4 separate regions of the Homo sapiens genome follow, and all the other regions are linked to region 4. The links come from fine-mapping of genetic effects on gene expression. A gene starts in region 4. Each other region holds a variant in brackets. All regions are shown on one strand. Distances are from middle to middle.

Region 1 (8,109 bases), 31 kb before region 4:
TTTCTTTCTTTTTTTGAGATGGAGTCTAGCTTTGTTGCCCAGGCTGGAGTGCAATGGCGTGACCTTGGCTCACTGCAACCTCTGCCTCCTGGGTTCAAGCGATTCTCCTGCTTCAGCCTCCTGAGTAGCTGGGATTACAGGTGTGTGCCACCACGCCTGGCTAATTTTTGTATTTTTAGTGGAGATGGGGTTTCATCATGTTAGCCAGGCTGGTCTCAAACTCCTGACCTCAGGTGATGCACTTACCTTGGCCTCCCAAAGTGCTGGGATTACAGGCGTGAGCCACCACACCCTACCTGTTAAGGTTTTCTAATTTAGTAAAAACAAAGGATAGGTAAAGCAGCTCACTGAATGGCCGAGACCTAAGCTGTCTACCGTGGACTGCCAGGATGCCCTGCTGAAGAATAACAGACAACATTCCTTTCAGTTGTATAAAACCATTGTTAGTAATCTTAAAATGTTATGTTTTATGTTTTTTTAGCTGTGAAAACAGTTTTTCAAATGTGCTCAAAGTATACATGGCATTCTAGATTTGGGCCAGATGTCCATTAAGTGGTTTACAAATGTTGAGAATCTAAGGATTCTCAGAATTCTTACTTATTCAGCTTTTTGTGTTCATCCAAATTAAAACTGTCATGCAAAGGGTCCCTATCAAATTACTGTCAAAACAATTTGACCTAATTGACATTTGTAAAACAACAGCAGAATATGCATTTTTGGAAAGTGCACATAAAATATTTACCCAACAAAGATCACCTAATTGTTTTGTTTTTAAAGAAAGTTTAAATAAAGTTAAAACTTTGCTTGGAAAAAAACTCTCTTCTCCTGTCTCCAGTAATTCAATTAGGGAAGCTGTTAATAGGTAGGGAGGGAGAGAGGCCAGCTCATGACTTAATAATTTCAACTACTTAAATCGTTATACACTAAAATTCTTATTTCTGTTTAAAACTAAATAAATCAAAATTATAACATGCAACATGGCATTCAGGCTTATTAAATTATAAATTTTTTCTGCCTCTTAATAGGAAAAAACCTGTTTAGAAGGACTTTGGAGTAGTTACAGTGAGTTTCTATATATATTGTATTTCAATTACTACTTTTCAAAGAACTAAAACATTATATACTATATACTGTTATATGCTATAAAATAAATATACTCAATAGAAATTATACTAAGCATATGTAAATCTTTCTTCCAAGATCCAGAAACCACCACACCTAAAACTGAGGGTACATTAATCATGAATTAATATAGGACATGAGCCCAATTTGAAAATATTTGCTCATAGTGTTACTTTGCATGGAATTGTGATCTGCCCTAGCAGATTTTAATGTTGAATGCATGTATCTTGAAGGAGGAATATCACAAACGGGACTTCACGGAGGTGCTCTCTCCCAATATGTACAACAGTAAACTCTGGGAAGCCTCAGGCCACTGGCAGCATTACAGCGAGAACATGTTTACCTTTGAGATTGAAAAGGACACTTTTGCCCTCAAACCCATGAATTGTCCAGGGCACTGGTGAGTATTAAAAGCGAAGCAGACCTTTTCATGAGAGCACATAGCACGCTTCGTCACAATTATCTTTTAATGCTTTGTGGAATGAAAGAGTCCCTTTAATCTGAAGAGTGGTGATTACTAATTTTTACTAAGTTGTTTCATTCCGGAGAATGGATTTACTTTTGAAAATATATTTGATCTTTGGCAGGTATGGGATGTTAGCTGGTAACCATTGCATTTTTTTGTGCTGATTAAAGGATAATGTTATGTGTCAATTTTATAAGTTTTATAATATTTGTCTTTCTTATAGTAATGCACTTCACATGTTCATATTTGCAGAATATTTAGTTCTTTCATACTGTTTGGGTGGATTATAACAAGATCAATGAGGTCATAATCAATGGGTTTCTGGATTTCACTGATTCCAAGATACCATTTTTCTTCCACATTTCAACATTTCTGAAGTTGAAATGCATCTTATAGTTGGTGGCATCTTAGCATTATATCATAATTTAATTAATAGGTTATTTTCTTTCTTTGTAGCACATAAAATGAAGATACATTTTACAATCAATGCTGTCTTTGATTCTATGAAAGACTAATTATCATAAAGTTGGTATGCAAATTCAACCTTGTAAGACAAACATATTGTACAACTGAAACTGAATAGGCATAATTGTCCACAAAAAACAATCCCAACAATTGTAGTTTTTGTATTATCAACATACATAGTTTCAAGTAAATTTACCTAGAAGATAATTATTAAAACCGGTAACTGAACACTGAAGAAAGCTCTTTGCCCTTTTAAGTGAAGATGAGAAGAAATTTAACTTTATGATGATGTCATGTAAAAAATATATATAACTTTAATTTTAGGAACACCGGTATGTAAACATTCTGTATCCTCTCTTTCTAAACAGAAGGTAGAAGCTATGCTAGTGTTTTGCATTGTAAAACACTTGTGTTAACAATTTCTTAACTCATCTTCTCAAAGGCATCCTTTAAAATTATAGCCTCGTACTTTATAATGAAAGTAGAGAATTTAAGTTTGTCTTTTTACACCTCAGAATAAGAAAGCAAGACCACGGTGGCTTAGAGGCAATGGGATATGGAAGCTAGGAGTGCTTTCTGCAGGAGAGAAGTCTTTCATTCAACAGAGAACATAGTTGAGTGCTTTTTGTGCTTGGAGCTAGAAGTGCAGAGGTGATTAAGACACAAACCATTCCCTCATGGAACTCATGAGCAGAGTGGGCAGGGCCATGCATGTAGACAATCTGTTATAAAAAGACCAGTGCCATAATGATGGCATGTTTGAGGTGTTCCAGGAACGTGAGGAGAAACTGCCTAGCCCTGTCTGGGAAATGTCTAGGAGGGCTTCATTTAAGAAGTAGCCTTTGAAATGAATCATAAACAGTAAATGGTGATTCACTGTGTGGATAAGGGGAGGGAACAGCATTTCTGGGAAGAGATAATAGACAAGCATCTTTCTCAGAGTGCTGCAGTGATGTAAATGCAAGGTTCACTAATTTGTGGAAGAATTTTTTTTTTAACCTGGTGATCTAAGAACTAGAATAAGGAGTTTATGAATCTTGAGGCTTAATTGTAATTTCTTTATATTTAGATAATTATTTAATATTTCTGTGCTGTGTAAAAGCTGTGTGTTACCACATCTTTTCTAGTCTAATGTTTGCCCATCGTCCACGATCTTGGAGGGAAATGCCTATTAGATTTGCTGATTTTGGAGTTCTGCATAGAAATGAACTGTCGGGGACTCTCAGCGGCTTGACCAGAGTGAGGCGCTTCCAGCAGGACGATGCTCACATTTTTTGCACAGTGGAGCAGGTAAACAATAACACAGAGTGAAGCAGTGTGGTCACAAATTGAGTGTGATGCCCCGCACACATCTTGTATTCTTTCAGAGTTACTGAAACATAGACGTTTGGTCTAGTCTCTGAGATTCATTCAGCTCTAACCTGCTGTGATTCTCTAAATTAGGTCAATAGATTAATCATCTCTTGACATGAAATATATTCCTTCAGTGATTTTATTAACCTAAATTCCATTAAGTGGAGTATTTTAAGGGATTTGGTGGAATTCTGGATGTTTTGTTTTTCAGTATCGCCTAGAACTTAAAATTTACTTTTTCAAGTTTTTGTGTTAATTCAAGTTAAAATTGCCATGCAAAGTTTCACTGTCAAACAATTTGACCTAATTGATGTTTATATAACAACAGCAGAATATACATTCTTTGGTTTCATGTTGGATGGGTAATGTGCCAGTGTTGTATCCAATGTGCTTCATGTGGGGTGGGTAATATGCCAATGTTGTACCGAGGTGTGAGGGAGGTACATCTTACACATGTGTGTACACCCAGTCATCACGCTTATGAACTACAAAAAGCTCAGAGTATTTGTTCTTTGAAATTGCAC[G/A]TAGAATATTTACTAAAATAGACCATATTCTGGACCATAAAACAAGTCTCAGTGAGTTGAAAGGGATGCAATTAAAATAAAATGTTTAATTAACCCTAATGTTTAACCCTAATCCTAACTGACCACAATAGAATTAAAAATAGATAACACAAAATCCAAAGGAAAATTAGACAATTTTATATAACAAATGAAATAAAAACACATCAAAATTTGTAGGATGCGATTTAAGTGGTAGAGGGATGTTTATAGCACTGAATACCTGCATTAGAAAAGAAAAATCAATGACTTAGCTTTTACTTAAGATAGAAAAAGAAGAACAAATTACACCCAATGTAATGGAAGCAAAAGAAAGAAAATAAGAAAGAGCAGAGCAGAAATCACTGAAATAGAAAATAAAGAGTAAAAATAAAACAAAAGCTGGTTCTCTGAGAAGATCAATAAAATTGATAAACCTTTAGTCAGACTGATGAGGGAAAAAAGACAAATAAAAATGTCAGGAATGAGACAGATGTCATCACTACAGATTCTGTAGCTGTTAAAAAGATAAGGCAGTTTTATGAATAACTTTATGCTCATACATTTGACAGCTTAGATGAAATGGATAAATCTTTGAAAGACAAAACTATTAAACTTTACTCAAGAAGAAGTAGATCATCTGAATAGCCCTGTGTCTACTACAGAAATTGAATTGATAGTTAAAAACCTTCCTACACAGAAAACTCCAGGCCAAGATGGTTTTACTGGTGAATTCTACCAAACATTAAAGAAGGAATAATACCAATCTAGAGATACTCTTCCAGAAAATTGAAGAGGAGGAAATCTTCACCACCTCATGAAGCTAATGAAGCTAATATTGCTGTGATAGAAAAATAAGACAAAGAAATTAAAAGAAAACTACTGAACATCTCTCATGAACATAAAATCAAAAAATTTAAACAACATTTTACTAAGTCAAATCTAGTAATTTTTTAAAAAGGACATCTTAATCAAATGGACTGAATCCCAGGAATGAAAAGGTAGTTTAACATTAGAAAATGAATCATTGTAATTCCCCACATTCACAAACTAAAAAAAAGAAAACAAACAAAAAGACAAAAAGCATATTATCTTCTCAGTAGATGCAGGGAAAAGTATTTGGCAAAATTCTACATCCATATCTCATAAAAACTCTCAAAACTAGGAATGGAAGGGAACTTTCTTAACCTGATAAAAGGCCTCTATGAAAAACCTACAGCTAACCTCATACTTAATAGTGAGAGTCTGAATGCTTTACTCTTAAAATCAGATATTAGGTAAGGATTATCTCATTACTTCTCTGATCATTGTACTGCAGGTTCTTTCTGATGCAGTAAGTTAAGAAAGAGAAATAAAAAACACCTAGATTGGAAAGAATTAAAACTCTTGTAAATGACATGATCATCTATGTAGAGATCAGATGGAATCTACAGAAAGCTATTAGAAGTAAGGTGAATTTAGAAAAATTGTAGTATGGAATATCAACATACAAAAATGAATTGTATATGCATTTCATAATAATAAACCCTTGGAAATTGCAAATAAGAAACAATTTGTAATAGCATCTCAAAACATATGATAGTACTTTGGGATAAGACTGACAAATATGTTGCTATGGACTGAATTGTGACTCCCAAAATTTATATGTTGAAGTCCTAACCCCCAATGTGATGGTGTTTGGAAATGGGGCTTTTGGGAAGTAATTAGGTGTAGATGAGATTATGAAGATGGAACCCTCATGATACGATTAGTGCCCTTTTAAGGAGATGCCAGAGGCTTTCTGATTCTCTCTGCCGTGTGAGGACACAGTGAGAAGTCAGCCGTTGGCAAACTAGGAAGAAAGCCCTCACCAGGGAACTGAATCAGCTGGCACATTGATCTTGGATTTCCCAGCCTGCAGAACTGTGAAGAATAAATGATTCTTATTTAAGCCACACAGCCTATGGATTTTTGTTCTGGCAGCCCAAGCTGAGTAATACATACATACACAACCTATACAGTGAAAACTTTAAAACATTGCTGAGATAAATTTAAAGAAGGCCTAAATAAATGAAATATACCTTGTTCGTGGTTTGGAAGACTAAATATTATTAAAATATCAGTTATCCCCAAGTTGATCTATAAAGTCAGTACAATCCCAGTCAATACCCAAGCAGACCTTTTTTCCCTGTAAGAGTTGACATGCTGATTCTAAAATTCGTATAGAAAGCACAAGAACCTAGAATAGCCAAAAGAACTTTGAAAGATAAAAACAAATTTGGAAGAGTCACTATGCTTGGTTTCAAGAATTATGAGAAACTACAGTAATCATGCTGGTCTAGATAGATAAATCAGCAAAACAGAGTCTAGAAATAGACACAAATATATGGACAACTGATTTTTAATTAAGATTCGAAGGCAATAAAATGGAGGAAAGGTAATATGTTCAACAAATGATGCTGGAATGATTGTGTATCCATATGCAAAACATGAGGTATGAGGATTCATACCTCATACCATATGAAAAAATTAAGATGAATCACAGGCCTAAATGTCAAACATAAAAATACAAAACTTCTAGAATAAAAATTGGGGAAAATCTTTGTAATTAGGTGATAGGTGATGATTTCTCAGATATGACACCAAAGGGCAATCCATAAAAGAAAAAAGTTGATAAATTGGATTCCTCAAAATTTAAAACTTCTGCTCTTCAAAAAATACTGATCATAGACAGGAAAGACAGGTTACAGACTGGGAGAAAATATTTGTGAGGCATATATCAAATAAAGGACTTGAATCCAGAATACTTAACAAATATTCAAACCTCAATAAGAAAACAGACAACCCAGTTAAACAATGAGCAAAAAAGACCTGCTTTGGGGAAGATGAAGCAGGTGCTTTCCCTTTCCTTCCCTCTAAGAACAAGTAAAAACCTTGGATATTACATATAAAACAAACACGAGACTCTGAAAGGTGTTGAGAAAAAGGGCACACTGGCTATGGACATCAGGACCTAAGAAACAACATGGTAGTGAGTTCCTTAGGTGTTTTTGTTTTGTTTTGTTTTGCCACATATATTCCAGACTTGGCAACCAACAGATGCCAACAGGCATCGATAAAACAGGCCAACAGAAGTCTGCTTGCTGTAGCCAAAGGACTAGGAAAGGGGCAGCCTAGAAAGATAGAAAAGTTTTAGACAATATCTACTCTATTTCAACCAGACACCACAGAAAAAACTGTGGCCCTTTATATGCCAGCTAAGGCTGATTGAGAAGCTTATATTTTAACTCTCAGCAGGCTCTAAATAAGTACCTCAATACCTGTTGGAATGGGTAAGAGAAGGCTTATTAGGAAGCTGGGAATTTTACTCCTGCATTAACAAGATCCCATCCCCCTCCCCCAACCCAGCAGTGTCAGTGAAGACTATGTGGGGAGCCTGGACTTTTGCCCTCCCCTGGAAGTAATGAGGTGCCTCTTCCAGTCCTGCTTGAGTAGTGTCAGAAGACGTCTAGTGGAAAGATAAGACTTTCTCACTGCCAATTGGTCATGAGGCCATGCTTTCTGTGTGCAGTAAAGGCCATGGAGGGGGGCTAGAACACCTGTGCAACCCAGAAGTAACGAGGAGCTCCTCTCCCCTTACTTCCTTTCTAAAAGGAGCTTGGACTGCTTTTCCCACTTGCCAGTAACTGTCCAGTACTGTCCTCCCTCTGCTGGAAGAGTGTCAGTGGAAGTCAGCTAAAACAACATTTAAGATCCAGAGGCTTACTATAAAACCGAAAATGTCCAGGTTTAAGAAATTGAAAATCACTCATCATGCTAAGAACAAGAAAAATCTCAACTTGAATTTAAAAAGACAATCTATGAACGGTAACACTGAAATAACAAAGATGTTACAATTATCTGCCAGAGATTTTAAAGCAACCACCATAAAAATGCAATTACTAACTAATGAGCAATTACTAACACACTTGAAACAAACAAAAATTACAAAGTCAGCGAAGAAACAGAAAATCTCAGGAAAGAAATAGAAGATATAAAGAAGAACCAAATGGAAATTTTGAACTGAGAAATATAATATTCAGTGAATAGATTCATGAGCAGAATGGTGAAGACAGACATAATGACAAGAACAGAAATTACACAATCTGAAAAACATAGAGAAAACAGACTGAAAGAGAAAAGAAC
Region 2 (8,109 bases), 40 kb before region 4:
TTTAACAGGTTATAAGAAGAGCTATGAATATTCACAAAGGGGGGACATTTATATACATAGTAAGCAAACATGCATGTTACATGCATCCCTTGTTCACTTTGGGGTGGAGACAATGCATTTAAATTAGGCTGTATAACCAAAAGGTCAAATGGAGGACACGGAGGCATCCCATGTGCAGCCTTTATAAACCAACCAGAACCAGTGCATGGTGAGTGGTCTTTTAACAGGAAGAAATGCTGCTCAGTTGTGTAAATCAGTGGTGGAACAAGTCTTTCAAAAGGGCTTGTTTCTGATTAACTCTTAGGAAAGAAAGCCTAATGGTTGTTAGTGACAGAGTGGGTATAATTAGGCATGTCCAACCTCTTGTCACTGCCAGTAACTCAGTTTTTAAGGTTTCTCTGGGGTCCTTTGGCCAAGAGGGTGTCTGTTCAGTCAGTTGGGGAGCTTAGGATTTTATTTTTATTTCTCAGTTATAGCAGTACCTACATCCAGTGCAAAATTCTGTTCTGGATGGCTATTGCAACATAGCAAAGTATCCCAGAACTTAATAGTTTAAAACTGCCATTTCATCATTACTGTCTTTCATAGTTCCAAATTTTAGGCTCCTGTGGGTGGTTCTCGCATTGGGTCCCTTACATGACTGTATTCAGGTAGAGTCTCATGCCAGGGTTATTGATTGAAGAATGTCCCCTTCCCATCATAGAAAGACTAAAAACATCAGGCATTGGCAAGAATATGAAGCAAGTATAACACTTACTGCTGGTAGGAACGTAAAATGGTAGAACTACTTTGTAGCAGTTTGGCATTTCCTGTAAAGATAAACGTGCCCCACTTCTTTTTTTTTTTTTTTTTTTTTTTTTTTTTTGAGACAAAGTCTCGCTCTGTTGCCCAGGCTGGAGTGCCGTGACGCGATCTCAGCTCACTGCAAGCTCCGCCTCCTGGACTCATGCATTCTCCTGCCTCAGCCTCCCAAGTAGCTGGGACTACAGGCGCCTGCCACCACCATGCCTGGCTAATTTTTTTGTATTTTTAGCAGAGACCGTGTTAGCCAGGATGGTCTCAATCTCCTGACCTCGTGATCCACCCACCTCGGCCTCCCAAAGTGCTGGGATTATAGGCATGAGCCACCACCGCGCCCGGCCTTTTATTTTTTTATTTTATTTTTTTCCTAAGATGGAGTTTTGCCCTTGTCGCCCAGGCTGGAGTGCAATGGCATGATCTCAGCTCACCACAACCTCTGCCTCCCAGGTTCAAGTGATTCTCCTGCCTCAGCCTCCCAAGTAGCTGGGATTATAGGCATGCACCACCACACCCAGCTAATATTTTTGTATTTTTAGTACAGATGGGGTTTCTCCATGTTGGTCAGGCTGGTCTCAAACTCCCAACCTCAGGTGATTTGCCCGCCTCAGCCTCCCAAAGTGTTGGAATTACAGACGTGAGCCACCACGCCAGCCCCCACTTCTAATTATCCCAAGATAAATAAAAACATATGCCCGCATCTACACTGAGACTTGTATTTGGATGTTCATAGAAGCGTTACTTATAATAGCACAGAACCAGAAACAACCCCAGATTCAGCTTGTGAAAAGATAAACATAATGTGGAAAGTCCATGCTGTGGAATACAACTCAGCATTTACAAGCAGTGAGATACTGATATACACATGAAGGAGGAACCTCGAAAGCATCGTACTAAGCCAGATAAGTCAGAGAATGCATAAGGCACCATTCCATTATATGACATTTCAGAAATGCCAAAACTATAGTGACAGAAAGATGATCAGGAGTCCAGTGGGTGGGGAGAGGGGATTGACTCCAGGGGGTCAGGAGGGAACTTCCTGGAGGGTGGAAATGTTCTATATCTTGACTGTGGCAGAAGTCGCATGACTGTATACATTTGTCAACAGTCACTGAATTGTACACTTAAAATTGGTGAATTTTATGGCGTGTAAATTTTACCTCAAGCCATTTTGTGGTAAAATACACATAATATAAAAATTTACCATTTTAACTATTTTTAAGTATGCAATTCATTCTCACTAAGTACATTCATGTTATTATGCAACTGTCATGGTCCATCTCCAGAACTCTTTCCACGTTGCAAATCCGAAACTCGCCAGGACTTTGTCATCATCCTACACTTAATCTCTGTACCCACTAAACACTAATTTCCATGCCTGCCTCCCCCAGCCTCTGGTAACCACCACTCTAGTTTCTGTCGCTATGAAATTGACTATTTCTAGGTGTCACATATAAATGGGTTCATAGGCTATTTGACCTTTTGTAATAAAACTATCTTTTTAAAAGTCTCCTTTGGTGTTGACATAGGCAAGCTAGCTTTCTTACATTAGTGTTTGCATGATATATCTTTTCCTATCCTTTTATTTTCTGCCTCTGTTTCTATATTTAAAGTACGTTGCTGGAGAAAAGAATACTGTTGGGTCTTGATATTTTTCAGTCTATCTGCCTGTGTCTTTTTTCCTCTCTGCCCTCTTCCATGTGCCTCAAGGTCCTCCCTGAGGTTCCAGTTGGTTCTGTTAGTCACCAGCCAGTAGAGGGTGTGCTTGTGGGACAGACTCTCAGTCACAGCTGGGCTGCCTCAGGGGCCATGGTCTGGTCCAATATCAGTAGCCTTTGCCTTGGTGCTGAGTCCTAGACCAGTCAGTAGTAGCCAGAGTGCTGGGGATACATGGTGCTGAGCACGATGGAATATATGGCCGCATTCTACCAGGAAGCATCCTTTTCCTCAGAACTGGAACTGCTGCATTTCTGTGGAAGGGATGTAGGAGGCCAGGATGGGCTGGGTGTGCACACTGCTCCCACTGAGGGAAATTTCAGGATTTCTGAGTTTTTGACTCAGGTAAAATGACTTCCACTTAGGTTTAAGTAAAGGCAAGTGAACTTTTGTTTGTATATTAGTTACTGACTGTGTGGACAACTGATAGTGAATAAATAGATCTTTTTGTTAGTCTCCTTGAATTTTTTTTTCCCTGCATTCTGGAAAATATCTGTCAGCTGATTCTGTACTTTTCTTACCTTTTTTTAAATTAACTTTTTTAATTGTCATGCAGTAAAATGTACGCCTTTTTGATAACATGCAGAACTGTGTTATCACCTCAGCAATCAAGATACAGAACAGTTCCGTCACCCCTCAAAACTCCCTCATGCTACCCTTTTAAAATCAAATCCTCCCCAGCCCTGACCTCAGGGAACGGCTGATTTTTTCTCTACCCCTAAAATATTGGCATATAAATGGAATCATACTTTTATAAAACCTTTAGAGACTGACCGCTTTCACCCAGCATAACACCCTGGAGATGCATCCGAGTTGAGTGTCCCCAGCGGGCCTCTGCTTTTGTCCCTGGGCAGTATTCCATCATATGAACATACCACTGCTTCAGATCCATCCTGCAGTTGAGGGGCATTTGGGTTGTTTTCAGCTTTTGGCAGTTATGAAAACTGCTATTGTCATTCAT[G/A]TACAGTTTTTTGTATGAACATAGGTTTTCATTTTACTAGAGTAAATACCTAGGAGTGTGATTTCAGGGTCATATGGTGATATGGTTTGGCTGTGTCCACACCCAAATCTCACCTTGAATTGTAGTAATCCCCAAGGGTCAGGGGTGGGGCCAGGCGGAGATAATTGAATCGTGGGGGTGGTTTCCCCCATACTGTTCTTGTGGTGGTGAATAAGTCTCTTGAGATCTGATGATTTTATAAAAGGGAGTTCCCCCGCACAAAGTCCCTTGCCTGCTGCCATTTAAGATGTGCCTTTGCTTCTCCTTTGCCTTCCACCGTGATTGTGAGGCCCCCCCACCAGCCATGCTGAACTGTGAGTCCATTAAACCTCTTTCCTTCATAAATTACCCAGTCTTGGGTTTGTCTTTATTAGCAGTGTGAGAATAGATATGGTAAATTTAAGTTTATAAGAAAATGCCAAACTATTTTCCAAAATGACTACTGTTTTGCATTCCCACCAGCTGTGCATGAGGGTTGCTTTTGTAAAGCTCATCTCAGTCACACCTTTTGCATTTCCTGGAATCTGCCTGACTTGTTGATGCATGTCTTGAAACCCTGGAGTGGGGAGGGGAGTGGCTTCTCTTGTTGTTATATTAATAACCCACTTGGGGAATTTTTGCTTCCTCTTCACACAACCTTAGATGGAGTGAATTTCTAGACCAAGCTTGTCTTTGTGAACATGGCAGGCCTCAAAACATTCAGCTCTTCTGCAGGGAGAGTCCTGAAAGATGCACTCCAAGGGTTTAACTGAAGAGAGTCTAGTGAAGGAAGTATTTATGGAGATATGGGCCTGGCTAAGGTAACTAACAAGGGATGATAGAGCGCCCAGGGATTACCAATAGCAAGAATCCCTTCCCCTCCATCACTAGGCCTGCAGAAGTGAGGAGATGGAGTAGTAATACTAGAACCCACAGAGAGCTTGGAGCCATGGAGGAGAGAAGTGAGGAGATGGAGTAGTAATACCAGAACCCACAGAGAGCTTGGAGCCATGGAGGAGAGAAGTGAGGAGATGGAGTAGTAATACCAGAACCCACAGAGAGCTTGGAGCCGTGGAGGAGAGAAGTGAGGAGATGGAGTAGTAATACCAGAACCCACAGAGAGCTTGGAGCCGTGGAGGAGAGAAGTGAGGAGATGGAGTAGTAATACCAGAACCCACAGAGAGCTTGGAGCCGTGGAGGAGAGAAGTGAGGAGATGGAGTAGTAATACCAGAACCCACAGAGAGCTTGGAGCCGTGGAGGAGAGAAGTGAGGAGATGGAGTAGTAATACCAGAACCCACAGAGAGCTTGGAGCCGTGGAGGAGAGGCCACACAACAGAAGCTGTAACTGTGGAACACAGCCAGAACCTGAGTAAACCCACAGCAGGGAGAACCAGGGAAAGAAATATCCAGACCTCTCTCTTCCACTACCCTGTGAATCCTTTGGAACTTCCCATTGGTCAGACCCAATCAGAAACCATATGGAAAGTATATTGGCATGTCAGGATTCTCCACAGAAACAGAACCAACAAGATACATAGAAAAGAAGAGATTTATTATGAGGAATTGGCTTGTGTGATTATGGAGGCCAAGAAATCCCATGATCTGAGGGTCCAAGAAAGTTGGAGATGTAATTCTCGCCTGAGTGCAGAGGCCTGAGAACCAGGGGAGCTGATGAATCTAAAAAAAGGAGAGAGCTCAGGTACATACACAGAGAATTAAACAGTGCTTACCATGGTCAGGGGTTGGGGGGAAGAAATGGGGGGATATAGATCAAAGGATACAAAATAGATATCTAGGATCAACAAGGCCAGAGATCTAATACAGAACATGAGGACTAAAGTTAACAAAATTATATTTATCAGGGAGTTTTGTTAAGTAATTAGATTTTAACTGCTCTTGTCACACACACAAAAAAGGTAACTCTTTTACTATTTGTGTCCTATAACATCATGTTGTGAATCTCAAATATGTGAAATAAAATTTATTGAAGAAAATTTAAAAGGCTGGGCATAGTGACTCACTCTTGTAATCCCAGCACTTTGGGAGGCTGAGAGGGGTGGATCGCTTGAAGCCAGGAGTTCGAGACCAGCCTGGCCAACATGGTGAAACCCTGTGTCTACTAAAAATACAAAAATTAGCCAGGCGTAGTGGTGCACATTTGTGATCTCAGCTACTTGGGAGGCTGAGGCAGGAGAATTGCTTGAACCCAGGAGGTAGAGGCTGCAGTGAGCCAAGATTGTGCCACTGCACTCCAGCCTGGGCAAGAGAGCAACACTCTGTTTCAAAAATATATATATATATATATAAATACTGAGGTAATAGTTCTAAGACTGATACCCATTGGCCGGGCGCAGTGGCTCATGCCTGTAATCCCAGCACTTTGGGAGGCTGAGGCGGGTGGATCATGAGGTCAGGAGATCAAGACCATCCTGGCTAATACGGTGAAACCCCATCTCTACTAAAAATGCAAAAAAATTAGCCAGGCGTGGTGGTGGGCGCCTGTAGTCCCAGCTACTCGGGAGGCTGAGGCAGGAGAATGGTGTGAACCCAGGAGACGAAGCTTGCAGTGAGCTGAGATCACGCCACTTCACTCCAGCCTGTGTGACAGAGCGAGACTCCATTTCAAAAAAAAAGATTGATACCCATTAAATAATTTTCATTGCTGAAGGAAATGTGAGGAAACAGTTATCATATACTTAGAGAGAAAGTTTAAATTGCTACTAATCTGGTAACAAATATTAATGTGAAAAAAATGCACACTCCTAGCAATATTCTTAGAAAGGAATCTAAAATATACAATTAAAATCACATAGAAAAAAACTTTACTGCAGAATAGTTTGTAGTATTCAAAAATGAAAAGTCTAATGTTTCTCAATAGTAGAAGGATTAAATACTTTGTGACATGTCCACACAATAAAGCACTATGCAGTTAGTACAAAAATACATCTATGCATACTAACTTGAAGGGGGTTCAGTATACCTCACCATTGAAAACTGGAAGTGACAGAGTAAATGTATAGTGTATCCTTTCTTTTTATAGGTAAAAGCAAAAAACAACAAAATCCTGTATGTGTGTTTTGTGTTTGCACAGTCATGGAGGAGAGGGTTGAAATACAGGAACAGCAGGCCATTAGCATTATCTCAGGGCAGTAAAGGGTGGAATGAGAGAAAATGTTCAGGTTTTCTTTATACACCTTATTTTTTTCCACATGAAACATAATTTAAGCATGTTGTATTATACTATTGTGTTTAAAAGTATATATTTTATAAAATAAAAAAATAATAATCACAGCAAGTAAGCCTTGTGCGGAGCCCACAGAAGTCAGCTTTGGGGAACACAGTGCAGGGCAGAGAAGGAAGGAAAATGGGCCAAGATGAGGCGAGACAGGCAGTGGCAAATGGAAAATAACCAGCCTGGCTCACCCCCTGTGCCTCTCAGCACATTCTTGCCTTTTGCTTGGAGGACACTGAGGACATTGGTTTCCTCCCACAAACTCCGATCAGCCGATGTGTCATCATGTGGTGATGTCATTTCAGTTTCACCTAAATCTGAATCGTGCCATTGGCCACCATGAGTGCCCTTCATGTAAGAATGCAAGGAAAAGTCATAACTAAATGTAACTGTTTCAGCCTCTGTAGATGGACGCTAGGGCCAAGCTGATACATCAGAGCCTTCTTTTCCCATCACTCATTCCACATTCGCCTTATCCTGGTGGCACCCCAGATGGGCATTGTTTTATTTGGTGGGTGCATTAGTTTCCTAGGGTATTATAACAAAATACCATAAACTAGGTGACTTAAAACAACAGAAATTTATTATCTCCCAGTTTTGGAGGCCAGAAGTGTGAAATCAAGGTGTTGACGAGGCTGTGTTCCCTCTAAAACCCATGGGGGAATCCTTCCTTGCCTTCTCCTAGCTACTGTTGGTTGCCAGTCATCTTTAGTGTTCCTTGGCTTGTTGAAGCGTCATTCCCATCCTCTGTCTTCACGTGATGTTCTCCCTGCGTGTCTTCACATTGTCTTCCCCTTGTGTGCATCTGTCTCTGTGTCCAGATTTCTCCTTTTTATAAAGAGACCAGCCATATAGTATTAGGATCTACCCTAATGATCTCATTTTAATTTGATTACCTCTATAAAGACCCTACTTCCAAATAAGGACACATTCTGAAGTACTAGGAGTTAGGACTTCAAAATATCTTATTTGGAGAATACAGTTAAACCAATAATAGTGGATGGCCTCAGTCTGTCCTTAGGATCCAAGGTTTTAGTAATGCTCTTTGTGGGGTTTCAGGGCTCCCACTGATGGTTGTTGCTAGATGTGTTGATATCAAAGGCTCCCCACTGAATTCCAGACACAGTCCTCCTTACTCCATTGTAAGCAATACGACTTCTCCCAGTAATTGCGATCAAGGGTAGTAAGTCTTTCCCCAAGTAATTGGGATCAAGGGTAGTAAGTCCTTTTCTGTCTATCAGTTCTATAGTAAAGGGAGCCCATAATGGGCAATGGACAATCTCAACTCCCAAGCATGTCTCAGTTTTTGGTGAAAACATACTTTGGGCACCAAAACATGTTATCGAAAGATTCCAAAGCTCCAAGGATAAAGAAAATATCCT
Region 3 (8,109 bases), 140 kb before region 4:
TGCAATGTAAGGCAACACAGTCACAGGTCTGGGAATGAGGGCTTGGGAGTCATCTCTGGGGAGGGGCATTTCCTACTCACCACAGTGGTTTTTAGTCTTCGAATGTAAACGTGAGGCCTGGGATAATCTGTCATCTTGTGACCAAGAGACAACAAACGGGAGAGAAAAACCGTTCCAAAATGCAAATACTAGCATGTACCTGGCCATGGAGCTATTACTAGTGGATGTATAACTGGGACTTCTTATATGACATAGGTAAACTCTCTATTGGTGAGCCTTCTTAAACTTGGGTTTTCTTTTTCTTGGAGCCATCCACAATAAGAAATGTATTTTATGTTATGACCAAATAGTGAGCCATAATCCTTATTTGAAAAACATTGTCCTAAGAATAAAGATTATTTAAGCTTTTTACTGTTTTTTTTTGTTTTCTGCACATTATACTGCATTTTATTTGAGCTATGTAAACAAGGCAATATTCCCATTTAAATCACTTGTTAAAAAGACTTCTCAGCACTGAACTCCATACAAATCTTAGCACCATCTAAGTCAGCTACTCTTTGCTAAAATCCCCCTACTGTTTGTATTGAAGATTCTGTTTCACTCTGCTTTTTCTACTCTGTAGTCTTTTTTTAATTATTATTTTTGTAGAGATGGGGGTCTGGGTTGCCCAGGCTGGTCTCAAACTCCTGATCTCAGGTGATCCTCCCAACAACACCTCCTAAAGCTCTGGGTTTACAGGCATGAACCACCATGCCTGGCCCACTTTGTATTCTTTCTGATGATTATCCTTCATCCTGCTGTCCTCTAACTGTAGCTCCCTCAAGGTATTTTACTTTTAAAATTTATGACCAGGACCTTTATTGAGAAATGCATTTTACATCACAAGTTACCACACACATAGGGGTAATGTTTGGTTTTCAGCTATATTTTCACAATTCGATTTTTCTCTGAAAAAATAACTGTTATGTGGATAAAACAACTAAATTCCTATCAGATGTCAGCCCCTTTGTGTGCTAGAGCCCACTGCCTTGCATCATCTGAGAACTTATTTATTTTGGACAATTATCCAATCTCTTTCCTGCATCGTTAATTTCTTACCTTCTACAGGATTATGCCCTAAATTTCATTCTGTTACACTCATGGAAAGAAGAAGAAACTGGAGATGGAGGAGAGGGAGGAGGGGGAACTATGTCTGCAGCTCTACTCTAGTTCTCTGCTACCCTTAAAAGTAAAACTTCTAGAGAGAGCCATCTATAGTCGCATTCTCTACGTCATCACCTGGATTCTCTCCTAAGACCACCCTAACCGAGCTTCCGTTTTCACTGCCTTTATGAACGTTTGTTAAGCTACGTGCAGTGAAATCCAAAGGTCGCTCTTCTATTCTTGTCCGAAATGTCTTAGAAGTGTTCAGTGAAGTTTATCACTTGCTTCTATGATGAAGGCTTTCTTCTCCTGGTTTCAGAAACCCCATCGTCTCCTTGCATCTCCTTTGTCACTGAAACTCTCTTACTGTCTCCTCGGCTCAATCATGGTATGCCCCTGGGCCCTTTCCTGGTCCTGTACTCCTTTCTATATAGAGGTAAAGCATTTTTTTTTTTTTTTTTTTTTTTTTTGAGACGGAGTCTTGCTCTTTCGCCCAGGCTGGAGTGCAGTGGCGCGATCTCGGCTCACTGCAAGCTCCGCCTCCCGGGTTCACGCCATTCTCCTGCCTCAGCCTCCCAAGTAGCTGGGACTACAGGCGCCCGCCACTACGCCCGGCTAATTTTTTGTATTTTTAGTAGAGACGGGGTTTCACCGTTTTAGCCGGGATGGTCTCGATCTCCTGACCTCGTGATCCGCCCGCCTCGGCCTCCCAAAGTGCTGGGATTACAGGCGTGAGCCACCGCGCCCGGCCGGTAAAGCATTTTAAACCCATCTAATCCCTGGGCTTTAACCAGTATCTGTATAAATAGGACTTTCAATTCTATATGTCTCATTCTGAACTCTTTTGGACTATGATTTGTGTAATCACATACGGACTTGATATCTCCACATAATACAGAATATTGGAGGTACATATTGCCTAATGATGATCTTCTTTGTCCACTTCATTTCCTGAAACTGAAATGTAGAGAGGTTGAATAACTTAACCGGTTTCCTATTGCTAGTCAGAGGCACAGTAGATATGCCTTCAAAACAGCGCTATCAGCTACTCCTTAGTAGGACCAAAAAATTAAAAAGCACATAATGCATGTATTAAATACTAACAAGCAAGAGTGTAAGATTTCTTTCTGTTTGTTAGGAAGCTTCAGTGTCGGATAAAGCTGTGCTGGACAGACTCCTGTAAATTCAAGCCCTGTGGTGGGGCTCTTTATGTCCCATGCTGAGTATGGCAGCCGAGGCATAACTGCATTTCTTTTAAGCTTTCCCCCAAAATTCAATCTGATTTTTACATTTTTATCTTTTCTCTCCCTGCTGGTAGGTTTCACTGGACTGATATAGATTTACATATTCCCCAATCTGATTATATTCCAGTTTATTGATTAAAAATTCCCACTGTGATATTGTTATTACAAAGTGAGGCATAAGTTTTTAGTGAATTATCACTTTTGCAGATAGTGATCACTTGATGGGAGGCTCTCTTTCAATTACCCCATCAAATAGTTATTGTTTATTTAGAGCTTGCTGAGAGTCAGATCATTTACGTAAATTTCTAAATCCCCAAGACTCAAAGCTGATTTCCAAAAATATTTGACTTTAACAGTATAGTTTCTTCAACTGAACTGTCTTTATTTACAAGCCTTTTAAGGATCAAGAGGAATTGCAGGTTTTGACACTCAGCATGTGAAGGCTTATATTAACTATTAAAGAATGAATTTCCTACAGAATATTTTTTCTCAACTGGGTCTTCATGCAATAATGTTAATTATCAAGATAAACGATCCAAAATGAGATGAAAGCTAAACATCAAAATACTGAACAATTTCTCCATGATCATGGGGATGACTCCATTAAAGCAAATTGCAGCTAAATGCAGGGCAGCAAGAAGGGAAACAGGGCAACAAGGAGATACATTATCTGTATCAACAACAAAGCTCTAAAGCCAAAATATTTAAGAGAAGTACGAATGGTCCGGCTTTGGGAAATAAACCAAATGTCAACAGTTTGCTATCACAATGATCATGAATGCCAGGTACTTTGAATACTTAGCATTTTGCATGCCAGATAGTTTACTGGGCAACACCGGTTACAGCAGTGTAGGCTGTACAGTGAATGGCTGCTGGTTTTCTTTTCCCCTGTAACAACATACCGCTACAGTAACTCTGCATGCTTTCATTTCAGTAACCTCTAGAGGTCCTTTATTACAAGGTATCAGAGCACTAAAAAGATTTCTGGGACTTCACTGAGTTCAAAAAACAGATGCATATGACAATTTCTGTAATTGTTAGCAGATACTTTTTTACATGGGGCAGGTTTTGGCTACAGCTACTTTTATTATAAAAACAGAAGATTTTCAAGGAAGAAACCTAATGCCCTCATTTTATGTTATCAATTTTAGAAAGAAATAACAATTAAGCATCAGTCAATTACCTTCACTTGGGAGAGGGAAGAAGAAAGCATAGCCCTCAGACAGACTGGGGAGGCAGGAGAGAATTATGCAAAACAGGAGGTTTACTAAGGTCCTACAGATACATGCCTGGGTTCTTCCAAAAATGCCTTCACCACTCTCAGATATTGGGCTTAGGATTCTAAAGTATTGAGCTCAGTTCTTGTGGCAACAGGACGTAAGATTCTAAACAGTCTTGGTTTGAAATGGAATAAGATTATGTGGAATTGCTTTAACAAGGCATGTGTACAAGTTGTTCTTCACTGCCAACCCTTTCCCTCCACTTTTGCTTCCTAAGATGTAAAGCCGTGGTTTCCTGAAGTGATTTTTTGCATAGGTGTGCCTAAATATTGTGGAACACAACAGCATTTGCTCATTATTAAATGTGTCAGATTCACTATCTTCTACTGTTTATTTTCAATGCTACATTTGTTCCTGTGTCCTTGCTCCACAGTTTGTGAGTATACTTCCTGGTTACAATTTACTAGTTAAAAGTAAAGTTGGCCTGGCATGGTGGCTCACACCTGTAATCCTAGCACTTTGGGAGGCTGAGGCGGGCAGATCACGAGGTCAGGAGATTGAGACCATCCTGGCTAACACAGTGAAACCCCGTCTTTACTAAAAACACAAAAAATTAGCCGGGCGCAGTGGCAGGCACCTGTAGTCCCAGCTACTCGGGAGGCTGAGGCAGGAGAAAGGCATGAACTCAGGAGGCAGAGCTTGCAGTGAGCCGAGATCGTGACACTGCACTCCAGCCTGGGTGACAGAGCGAGACTCCATCTCAAAAAAAAAAAAAGTTAGAGGAAGCACTAATGGTACTATTTTTACTACAATTAGAAAGACAGGTACTCATTTCCTTCACACTCAAAAAGAAAATTGGTTTTATGATTTTGTGGCAAGGCTTGATCTACGGATGGAGTATAACTTTTCTGTAATCACTGTATATTAGTTTTCCAACCTCAGCAGATATTTTTTCTGAATATATTTGAATAATTTCTCATACTCTTCCTGTCTTCTTCACTTTGTTGAAACAGATCAAGCCCAAGTATTTTTGGGTTGTCTACCAATTCCAATAGAGAGCCTTGATTTGGGATTAGGTTACTCTGAAATATTTTCCAAAGTAACTCAATTTTACAGAATCAAAGTGTACTTGTGGCTCATTTTATAGCTATGGAGAATATGTATTTCTAATTTCTACTTTAGAGGGTTTTTTTTTTAACCATCACAACTAGGAATTTTAATTCTTTGTCTGAAAAATTATACTGTACGTATTTCCCTCAAAACCATTTGGTAC[A/G]AAGTACTGCCCATTAGAAGCAAGCTGAACATTTTGAATATATATTATTCATCTCATACAGGATGACCTTGCTCAGTAGGTCATAATTTGAAGATCTATTATGACTGTGATTAATAGGACTTCTCCCGACCAGTATCTGAAATAAATGCAAATGGCCACTGTAACACAATTACTTGGTTTCCATTTTAAAGTCTTTCCACTTAGAAACTAAGTTATACATAGAGGTTACACATCTCAGTCTGGCTGACAGACTCTCAGGTGGGTGGGCCTATTACAATCTATGCAAACAGGAAGACCAGGTCACTCATTAAACCATGGTCAATATAAATGGTGCAACGGGTTTTGTCCCAAGGACCGATGGCTAGATAATTTGACAAAAGGACAGAGAAGGATGGTGAAAAAAAAAAAAAAAAAAAAAAAACACAGATCAATGGCTATTAATTTGAAAGCAACACATATCCTAGAAAGAAACAGTTTATGCTGTTATTTAGAATAATTACCATTTTCAATTAGCTGACATTTCACATAGCTTTGGGACTATAGCAAGGCAATAACCCTCAACATCTAATCTCAGCCCTGCCTTTTGTCAATGATCTCCTGATACCGCTTCAAAGGCAAACCCAATACTTTGTGAGCAATGGCTTTCTTTGTCATAAATAGCAAGTAGTGCACAGAGTTCAAAGGAAGTTCAAGTGATATACACACTAAGGCAAAATATCTCATGTTAAAATTTCCCTGAGTACGTGAATATTTTTTTCCTGGCCATTTCCTTAATGAGCATATACTTCCAATGCAATAGAGCAGTAATTTTATTGTATTATGATGACACTATAAAAACATAAAGGAATTAAAAGTTCCAATGTAGATTTCTATCCCATCAGTGTCAATATAAAATTTACATAGCTTTTTAAAGCTAAATTATAAACTTAATTATTCATATCATTTTAAGATACTGTTTGGAATTTGAAAGTATAATATGATACATAGTTTAAAATAAATTAGCCATTTCCTATTTGAAAAATAAAATTCTCAATCTGTTAAGAGAACACATCATGATACTGATGAGAATCACTTGTGTTGAAATGCTTATTTGGTCAGCACACCAGACCATTAGTCCAAAAGCACAGGACTAAGTCTTGTCTATTCTGCGGCCCATGCCATACATACTTAGTCACCTAGTCCTCTGCCTGGTAGAAGGCTTCAATCACTACACTGGAGCTGAAGAGAAACAGTGTCACCGAGTATAAATAAAAACACTGCAACCCATAACTCCTGAAACACAAAACTCAAAGTCTGTATCTTATTGGTTACTGGTTAGTTGTATCATCTGTATTGGGCATTGAGGTACTAGCAATAATTAAAAATATAAGCTTGCAAAAATATTATAAATGCATTAGACCTAATAAAGATCTAGACAATGGATGAAAATATGTGGTTTGTGCTGTCCAGACCACAATCCTTGGAATCTAGTTGTGAAATGCTGCTCTATTCCCCTTAATAATTTTTAGAAATATCATCAATATCTGTTTTTGACAATTTTTATTAAAGTGGCAAATGGTCGTTAATCATTTTTAGATCAGTTTTTCCATTAGATACCAGACAGAATTATCTAGGTATGAAAAGCCAATCATAAATAAGGTACTATTCAGTTAAACCGCTTTGTTCACACAGAGAATCATGCTATTAGTTTGCATACTTCTTAAGATTTTAATTTCACACTCTTCAGTGTCACAATTATATTGTCAATTAAGTGTGTCATTAGCAAAACTGGGAACCCTCAGACATAACATTTCCATTCAAGTCAAAATTTATACTGAGTTGATGTCTAAAATGCTTACACTTACAAGATCTATCTTATTATAGCTCGGATAGTGTATTCCACTTTTTTGTCACTCTATATAGTCATCTACAAATAAGCAACAAAATAAAGTCATTTAAAGACCAGAATTAAGTGTCTGTTAAACTTCTTAGGTGTTGTAAAGTATTCATCTATTGACCCTGCTCTCCTAGGCTCTGAACAAGTTGTTCTATTTGGGCAACTGGCAAGAGGTATTTGGATCTTCTGAATAGAATGCCCTAAGAGATTCATAAACCTTTCAGAAGAAGAAAGGGTCTCAATACTTATTGAAACACTGCACATGAACTAACTTACTTATGTTATCTTATTTAATCTTCATAACAACCTTACTAGCCTGAAATTCCCAGCAGACCAGGAGTAGCACTGGTTTTACTCAACTTGTATCTTAAAGCAGCCAGCCAAGTGGAAAGAGAACAAACTTCCAATAAATATTCCTAGAAAGAGAAGCGGATAGAAGTGAAAGGAAAGATTAAGATGATATTATTGTACTCATTTTAAGGTTGAAAAATCTAAAATAAATACAGAAGGAGTAATATGTCCAAGATCACACTGGAGGAAGTTATGGGCCTAGCATTTCATTCCTGATCTTTCAGAATCCCAAACCGATGGTTTCTGGGCAAAATACGCTTCCATTCATATATGTACCTTCGTTCGCATTTTTACAACAATACTTCATTCATGCTAGCCACCAGCTAAGAGGGTCCCAATTATCTGGAATCTAAGTCCAAAGGAACACAATGATTGAACAAATGAGCTGTCAAAATATTTCTGCATCACTCACTTTCTGTAAAAACAGAACCACCTATTGTGGCAAGTCTGGGAACAGGTGAGCCCTTATTTCACCCTCCAGCTCCACATTTCGAGTCTCCTTATGAGTCAAGCATGCAAATGCCTGAGCTTCTTCACTTTGATGTTCACATAGTGAATATCTAACACATAGACATTCACAGAAATCTTCACAAAAGTAAGTTTTTGAAGAAATAAATTTTTTTATGAAGTGTTATTTGAGCACTCTGGAGCATCATACAAATGTAGGACAGACCGAAGGGCTACATGCAGCTTAATTTGAGTTAACATTTTTTGAAATTTTATATTGCAAAAGTATACGTATTTACCGTTGTGAAATTAGAAAGGATAGGCAAAGAGGGCGGTCTACAAAGCACTCCCTAGATCCACCATACTGAGACAATGCTTAATGCTTTGATGAATTTATTTATTTTATACTTTCTATGCGTATGCATGTATTGTATACATACATGTTCATGGTTAAATATAAACAGTTCTCCTTGGTGTTCTGTTTATCCATTTATTGTTATGAAGTAAATCCCCAAAGAGTACATTTCCTTTGCCCGAGGGAGTCTTTTGCTACAT
Region 4 (8,109 bases):
TATATACTTTATATTTCAGCCTCACAGGCCTGTAATATTTTCCCTCACTTTTCTGGCTTATTAGGAAACTTTGGGATTAAACTAACAGAAAGAAAAGATCCCAAATTTAAAATGATCTAAAGGAAAAGATTTAGATGAAAAGTAAAATGTCCTTTTAGCATATGACTAATTAGATGCAGAATCTAAAATTTAGGCTTTAAAAATGATTCCAAAATTAAGAGAAACTAACACTGATATAACTGCAGGCACAGTATTGCTATTTCTTGTAAGTTGAGAGTCTGTAGAAGGCGAAATAAATATGCATAGCATTGTTCTATTGACAGTGTTTCAATGATAATGTTTGACACCAGAGTAGGTATTGTGCTGTTTCAGTCAGGCTTCTTATGGTGGCAGAAATCTCAACTTGGTTTAGACAAAGACAGCATTTGTTGGAAGGGTCTTGGAGTATCCCATGACATGAAAGGTAGAATTAAATAGCCAAACCACTAGAAGAGCAATCAGGAGCTCAACCCTCACCAGGAGTATTTCTCCCCATTTCTCGTTCCTGTCTTGCTCTGGTTCTTTATGCTTCTCTTGAATATCTACCTTATTCCACTTATCTGCAGACCGGTTTCTTCCTTCTGTGTGGCAAGAAGCATGGCTGTAGATTCCTGCATCATCTCACAATATGGGTCACTAGAGAGAACAAACTTTTTACCCACATTCCAGAAAGTTCTGGCTGGCTCGCATGGGTCTGGTGTCCACTCCTTGGCTCATCAGGTATGCCAGGTGGAGTCAGCGTGAGCCTGTAAGAGCTCCCCGCTCTCATCTGCACCCTAGTGCCAGGTGGGGTCAGTGTGAGCCTGTAAGAGCTCCCCACTCTCATCTGCACCCTAGTGCCAGGTGGGGTCAGTGTGAGCCTGTAAGAGCTCCCCGCTCTCATTTGCACCCTAGTGCCAGGTGGAGTCACTGTGAGTCTGTAAGAGCTCCCCGCTCTCATTTGCGCCCTAGTGCCAGGTGGAGTCACTGTGAGCCTGTAAGAGCTCCCCGCTCTCATTTGCGCCCTAGTGCCAGGTGGAGTCACTGTGAGTCTGTAAGAGCTCCCCGCTCTCATTTGCGCCCTAGTGCCAGGTGGGGTCAGTGTGAGCCTGTAAGAGCTCCCCGCTCTCATTTGCGCCCTAGTGCCAGGTGGAGTCACTGTGAGCCTGTAAGAGCTCCCCGCTCTCATTTGCGCCCTAGTGCCAGGTGGAGTCACTGTGAGCCTGTAAGAGCTCCCCCCTCTCATTTGCACCCTAGTGCCAGGTGGGGTCAGTGTGAGCCTGTAAGAGCTCCCCCCTCTCATCTGCGCCCTAGTGCCAGGTGGAGTCACTGTGAGCCTGTAAGAGCTCCCCCCTCTCATTTGCACCCTAGTGCCAGGTGGGGTCAGTGTGAGCCTGTAAGAGCTCCCCGCTCTCATTTGCGCCCTAGTGCCAGGTGGAGTCAGTGTGAGCCTGTAAGAGCTCCCCGCTCTCATTTGCACCCTAGTGCCAGGTGGGGTCAGTGTGAGCCTGTAAGAGCTCCCCGCTCTCATTTGCGCCCTAGTGCCAGGTGGGGTCACTGTGAGCCTGTAAGAGCTCCCCGCTCTCATTTGCGCCCTAGTGCCAGGTGCAGTCAGTGTGAGTCTGTAAGAGCTCCCCCCTCTCATCTGCACCCCAGGACCACAAGAGCTGTTCTCTCAGGTGGACAATAGAGAGATGGGATCAGAAGTCATTGCTTCCCTCAAGAAACTTAACTATCAGAGGATGAACCAAATGCTCATTAGATGATATTTAATATTAGTGAAGAAAAACTTGATAAAAACATGTCATGGGACTGCTGACTTAATGTTTGGTAAATTGCTGATTTAAAATACATTTCTTTACCTTTCTTTTCTGCAGTGGTTGGAGAAAAGGAAAAGATAGATAATGCTGTAAACGTGCGAACAAGAGACAACAAAATTCATGGAGAGATTTTAGTAACTTCTGCCATTGATAAACTGAAGAATCTCAGGAAGACACGGACACTCAATGCTGAGGAGGCCTTTTGAAGTCCTTCCCTGATATTTGCTTCTGTGTAACTTTGTTTTGACCCTTAAAAATGTATTTTTCTTAACATGTTAGTACTTCTACGACTTTGGAGCCACTGATGGGTCCACTCATGGCCTCAGCTGAGAAAGGAGACGATGAACGTGTAGCTGACATGCACGAAGTTTAATTTACTCATGTCCACGGGGGACGTTTAGAGGGCACGTGGGAAATTTTCCAGCAATCAATGCCTTGAGAAACTTAAATGGGGAAATATTATTCATCGAGAAAGTGAAACAAAACACTAGGAAATGATTATGAAATGTTAGTGATTTTCAAAAGATGGGCTTCAAATAAAAGTCTGCAGAGTTTTTTTTAAATAGGAGGGAAAATCTTATTTTCTAATATGTCTCAGGTATTTTTATGACTTCTACTAAAATTCACACTGAAACTTTATCTTCTAAACTGGAATCATTACTTAATTTTAACTAACCAACAACCACAAAAGCAGCAGCTACTGCTAAATATTGGATTACTGACAAAGGAATTCAGTTTTGTGGAATCTGGTGTTTGCACTATAGGTTAAGAGTTGCCATTTAAATGTTTCTTATTCATAATTAGGTTTTGTTCCGCTTTAGAAAAAAATAAATTCCCAAATGAATTGCATCAGTGTTTCCAGCGTTTCAGCTGTGGGCTTCTACCACCACTAAGCCGCTCACCTAGAGTTGTTACTTTTTTGATGGGATGACATTCCATGGATTTATGTACTGAAATGGATTTCAGATTTTAAAGAGAGGAATGCTCTACGTGCTCAGAACTGAATTAAAATGGCATTATGTCAATAGAGAATTCAGCTACCAAACAAGAAGTATTGTTTATTTTGCGATATGCTGTGAAATTCAAAAGAAATGTAAGAAATAATCTCTTTTCAATATACTGATCATTTAGTTAACTTCCTGAGGGATGTGAACAGTGAAACAGTTGGCAAACAAAACAATATATATCAGGCTTGTGTAGTAGTATAAGGTGCAGATTGTGTGATATGATTTTTATTATTTATTTTTTGAGACGGAGTCTCGCTCTGTCACCCAGGCTGGAGTGCAGTGGCGCGATCTCGGCTCACTACAACCTCCGCTTCCCGGGTTTAGGCGATTCTCCTGCCTCAGCTTCCCCAGTAGCTGGGACCACAGGCGCGTGCCTCCACGCCTGGCTAATTTTTTTGTATTTTTAGTAGAGACAGGGTTTCACCGTGTTGTTAGCCAGGATGGTTTCGATTTCCTAACCTCGTGATCCGCCCGCCTGGGCCTCCCAAAGTGCTGGGATTACAGACGTGATTCACCGCCCCCGGCCGTGATACGATTTTTAAAGCTAACATTCAGGGCTTATGTGCCGGCACTTTTCCATGTATTTTTTAAAAAGTCATTCAGCAAACATGCACGTGAGGGGGTGGTAGTCAGAAGACCGCGGAATGAACGATCCCGAAGCACGTGGGTGGGAGGAGAGCACCTGTCACCAGCGCTTTCTCCCAGGTGTGCTGTGACAGAAACCGGCAAGGGTCTCCGCAAGCTGGGGCCTGAGCGCGGCTCCCCAGACGGCCGCGACCTTCCCCAGGCAGGGCTGGGCTCTGGACCCTCCCCTCACTTCCCAGCGCCTCGGGCCATCCTGCTTCTCCAGGCCTGAGAGGAACTTTCTGGAAGTGCTGCGTATCTTCAAGAGGCCGGCCAGAAGTGAAAGCCGCGGCAGGCCTGAGCGCCGGCCCCAGGGGAGGGGTCCCTCGGGCCCTCGTCGTCCCGGGGCCGCTTCCCCGACTGTAAATAAGTGTCTTTAGGATGAAACGCCACGCGATAGTGTCCTCGGAACCTTCGCACGAGATCCAGCACACAACATCCGACCACACACTGGGGCGGCCAGCCTCCCGCGTTCGCCCGCCTCTGCTCTTGGTTGCTTCGGGCGCGCATTTCGGTCCACGGATGACCTTTAACAGGTCTCCTGCAGTGGAACCAGGGGTGAGGGCCTCGTCCAAGGGCGTGAGGGGCGCGTGGAAATGGAACAACCTCCCAGGCTCGCATCCTCCTCGGGGACCTCCCAGAAGGCTCAACCGGAAGAAAACCCGCGACCCGCGCGAGGACAGCGAAAGCGCAAACGCCGGCCGCCAGGAGTCGCAGCGCGCCTGCGTCCAGTTCACGCTCCGGCTCCCAGGCGCGCCCCGCCCCCCGGCCCGGAAGTGCGCAGGCGCTGGCAAGATGGCGGGAGGGGTGCTCCCGCTGAGGGGCCTCCGCGCCTTGTGTCGCGTGCTGCTCTTCCTCTCGCAGTTCTGCATTCTGTCGGGCGGTGGTGAGTCAAAGGCTGGGTTCAGCGCCGGGTGGGGCTGAGTGGCAGCAGGGCCCCGGGAGCTGCGAGGAGGCCGGGCCCACGGGCGGACGCTGACGCGGGGAGGAGGCCGAGTGCCGGGCTCCGGGCCGCTTGTCGCTGCATCTGGAGTCTGGCGCCCTGGCCGCCCGGCCCGAGGCCGCCCCTCCGCTCCGGCGACACCGAGCCCGCCATCGCGGCTGCGGAGCCCTGGCACGGAGATGGAGCGCTTGGGGGCTGGGCCGGGGAGGCGGAACTGGAGCGCGATGTCATCCTTCGGTCCCTCGTTGCCGGCTGACCTGAACTGATGTCTACTCTGTTGACGTTTCGTCCCTAAGCTTTGTGTTTTCTGGCTGACCAGCCGTGAGGTTTTCATGAGCAGCTTATTGGCCTGGTGTAGACCCGCCGTGTTAACCACACAAAATAAGGTTTTCTTGTCCCGGGATAACGTGTTTCTCTAATTGTACGATCCTTAAATTTAGAGCAATCGCAGGCGCTGGCTCAGTCAATAAAGGATCCGGGCCCAACACGCACATTCACAGTAGTTCCCAGGGCAGCAGGTACTAGACGTTTTCTATTCTAGTAAATACATGTAGTTATCTCTAGTAGTTTCTCTTTGTTTTTATAAAAATTCCCTTTAGTATACGAAGTCACTTTCCATTTTTGAATATTTATTGTATTTTAGATTATGTGAATTAAGGGTAGATACACAGCCATTTTCAGTAGATAGTCTTCGTATTTATACCTTTTGACGTTTCTGCCTCCTCTCTTTTTCCAATCCCACGCTCATTTGTCACCTTATTTCTATTATTTTTCCACTTCATCCATCAAAATAACCTTCAGTCCGTGCTTCTTTCCCTTCAGCAAATTTCCTCTACTGCTAAAACCCTGTTCCTGATGTTGGAATATTAAAGGCTCCCTCAGGACTGTGGAAATGGAAGGATTACAGCGGGACTGATGGAGACTTGAAATCTAGATCTGGTTTTGCTACTGGGATCTTGAACAAATTATTTATCCTCTTTGGACCTTGGTCCTCATCTTTAAAGCGGTGGGGTTGGTCTGACGACCTAAAGTCATTTCTGCTTTGTGATTCTAAGTGTCCACCTTCCAGCCACATAGTCACGGGATCAAAAAGAGTATTTTGTAGAATTGTTCCTTAATACAGTGAGTAAAGTAGGACCAGTTTTAAACAAGCATTAGTGTGTTTTGCTAGGTGGAGGCTCTGACTATAATTTCATCACTTTAAAGTGACATTACTTCAGTGAATTGAAACTGGCAGAGATATTTTACTGATTCTTATTTGGATGTAAAAAACAGCAGTGCACTTGAATTTTAAACTCAGATTACTTTTTAGAGAAAGCACAAGAGTTCTTAACTCTTGCAGGCTTTTGAAAGCCCTTCTTTTCAGGAATACTTGCAATTTTGATCCTTTCAGTTGGTAAAAATACATTGCACACTCATTAGGTTGGTTGGAAATAAGTTGCAGCTTACTGAAGATGTTATTAAAGTAGAGAACTGTTTTGAACTTTGGTAGCGTAAAACTGTAAATATTATATTAGCAAATGTGGCTTATCGAAGTACCAGTGTGAAATAATGACATTTTAAAGTTGATGCCCTGAGGATGTCAGTGGCTTCATTTCTGAATTAGTGAATTCAGATGAAAAGAACACGGGATTGGAAATGGAGAGATTTGGGTTCTAGTTCCAGTTTTGCCACAGACTTCCTCTGTGATTTTGCAAAACCCTACTGTAAGTTTTTTTTCAACTTACAAAATGATAGTCTTTTTTTTAAGCCCTTAATGTATACCCAGAATTTTCTATACATTATTTGTATATGAGCACCTTTAGTTTTCACGGCCACGTGGGAGGCAGGAATGAAGTAATGTTTTACAAGTGTGGTGCTCACCAGGTCCCACAGCTGGCCGTGGGCAGAATTCTGCTTTAATTGCAGGTGTCTCTGACTCCAGTCCCATGCTTCTTCCCTTCCAGTGCAGTGTCTACTTGCTAATGATCACGTCTCTTAACCTTAGAAGATTGTTCTCTGTTATTCGAATCAGTATTATAGGAGAATAAGCTTCTCTCTTGCCTCTCACAGAAAGTACTGAAATCCCACCTTATGTGATGAAGTGTCCGAGCAATGGTTTGTGTAGCAGGCTTCCTGCAGACTGTATAGACTGCACAACAAATTTCTCCTGTACCTATGGGAAGCCTGTCACTTTTGACTGTGCAGTGAAACCATCTGTTACCTGTGTTGTAAGTACTGCAGCTTACTTATTCTAAATAAATTCATTGTAAACTTTAAGTTAGAAGAACAATTCAGACTTGATTATTGGGAAGAAATTCTGAAGAATTTTTATATTCTTTTATGATTTCCCTTTTGAGTATGTAAGCAGAAATAAATTAAAAAACCCAATAGACCTTTCCATATCAGCTCACTACTGTTTTAGTTATAATGATAACTGTCAAGCCAGTTGATGTCTGCTGGAAATGCACTTGACAGAAATGTTGCTTTGTAGGACTGGAGAAGATCTCAGTCTACTAGCATATCTGAAGCAAGTCTAATTCGTTCAGATGGATTCTGTGTTCTCAATAGTGACAGCTAGTGTACAGAGGGGGTGGCAGTGTCTTTCTGCCATAGATGAGCTTTTGAAGGGCCAGTGCTTATCTGTGGTGAGAAGATGGATTCAGTAAATGCCGGAATGCCTGGTAGCTCTCTAGAACAAAATTAAGTGGAACGCCTGTCTTATCCAGAATAAATTCCAGATAGTCCAAAGATGTAATGTGAAAAATGAAACCCTGAAGTACCACAGAAAACACCAGATAGTTGCTGTTATAATCCCAAAATGGAGAATATTTTTCTAAGTATGAAATAAAGTTTAGAAGCCATAAAATAAAGAATTGATACATTTGACTCCTAAAAATTGGAGATTTCTGCATGACCTAAAAAAAAAAGCATAAAGGCAAAAGACATGGCAAACTAGGAAAAAGCGTTTCTAGAATATGTGACAAATAATACAGTAATATCAGTAATATATAAACACTTCCTAAAACCCACACGGAAAAGATGACAGTCTTGTAGAAAAACAGTGTTAGGACATGAGCAGATGGTTCATAGGAAAGGAAATACAAATAGATATATAACATGAAAAACATATAAGTTTTCTCATAGTATTTAATTAATACATTTTTAACCCTTAGATTGGCAATTTTTTTTTAATTTGATTAACTCTGAGTTTGTGAGAGTATAAGGGTCAGATGCTCATATCTTATTAATAGGTAATCAAATTGATCAACCTCTTGTAGGCGATTTGCCATATCTGTTAAACTTACACATGCACACAATCGTTGAGCTCGTAGTTGTACATGTAGGAATTTATGTTATAGATATCATTATACATGGATGCAGATAAGTGTGCTTATTTTTTAGCTGCATTGCTCATTAAAGCAAAAGATTCAAAAGAAGTGAAATGTCTAAGAACTGCTTAATTTATGGTACACGTGTAATAGAATAAACACCTTGTAGCCATTAAAAAGAACTAGGCAGCTCTAGAGGTAATGTACTGATAGATGTCCAAAATTAAGTGAAAGTATTGGGGAACATTAAATGTAGGTGACATAAATGTGCCTATGTGTAGAATCAGCTCTCTCTGGAAGCACAGAGCGTACTTGGCCTGGGGAGGGCAGGGGCTCCCGGCGGCTGGGCCAGACGAGGCCGGCTCACTTCTCACTCTCCTGTTGTG

Direction of the effects. Alleles are on the strand shown, and positions count from the first base shown. SD is a standard deviation of normalised expression in the study named.
As copies of G replace A in region 1, the expression in sun-exposed skin of the gene that starts at base 4,245 in region 4 goes down (small effect, 0.37 SD a copy in GTEx).
With allele G in place of A in region 2, the expression in cerebellar hemisphere of the gene that starts at base 4,245 in region 4 is higher (moderate effect, 0.45 SD a copy in GTEx).
With allele G in place of A in region 3, the expression in monocytes after LPS of the gene that starts at base 4,245 in region 4 is higher (moderate effect, 0.51 SD a copy in Fairfax 2014).

Evidence for each region. PIP is the estimated chance that this variant, and not a neighbour inherited with it, causes the effect.
Region 1: its variant is the best candidate, but not a certain one, in a credible set for the expression of TM2D3 in sun-exposed skin (GTEx, PIP 0.52).
Region 2: its variant is the best candidate, but not a certain one, in a credible set for the expression of TM2D3 in cerebellar hemisphere (GTEx, PIP 0.83).
Region 3: its variant is the best candidate, but not a certain one, in a credible set for the expression of TM2D3 in monocytes after LPS (Fairfax 2014, PIP 0.80).

What each region holds. Positions count from the first base shown.
Region 1 is chr15:101,679,309-101,687,417 of GRCh38, reverse strand. It overlaps TARS3 (threonyl-tRNA synthetase 3), which reads left to right. Exons shown (of 19, transcript NM_152334.3): 11 at 1,356-1,522; 12 at 3,181-3,343. It overlaps LOC124903609 (small nucleolar RNA U13), which reads right to left and starts at 3,903; the gene lies at 3,802-3,903. The variant G/A (reference allele first, on the strand shown) is at 3,931.
Region 2 is chr15:101,688,967-101,697,075 of GRCh38, reverse strand. The region is part of intron 10 of TARS3 (threonyl-tRNA synthetase 3); the gene reads left to right. Among named protein-coding and RNA genes, the nearest start is that of TARS3, 31 kb to the left of the region's middle. The variant G/A (reference allele first, on the strand shown) is at 3,476.
Region 3 is chr15:101,786,125-101,794,233 of GRCh38, reverse strand. No RefSeq gene overlaps it. Among named protein-coding and RNA genes, the nearest start is that of OR4F6, 13 kb to the left of the region's middle. The variant A/G (reference allele first, on the strand shown) is at 4,881.
Region 4 is chr15:101,648,517-101,656,625 of GRCh38, reverse strand. TM2D3 (TM2 domain containing 3) reads left to right here and starts at 4,245. Exons shown (of 6, transcript NM_078474.3): 1 at 4,245-4,355; 2 at 4,853-4,930; 3 at 6,465-6,622. The coding sequence starts at 4,265. TARS3 (threonyl-tRNA synthetase 3) reads left to right here. Exons shown (of 19, transcript NM_152334.3): 19 at 1,896-3,030. The coding sequence ends at 2,044. RefSeq lists enhancers at 2,951-3,841, 3,948-4,007 and silencers at 3,668-3,857, 4,098-4,657.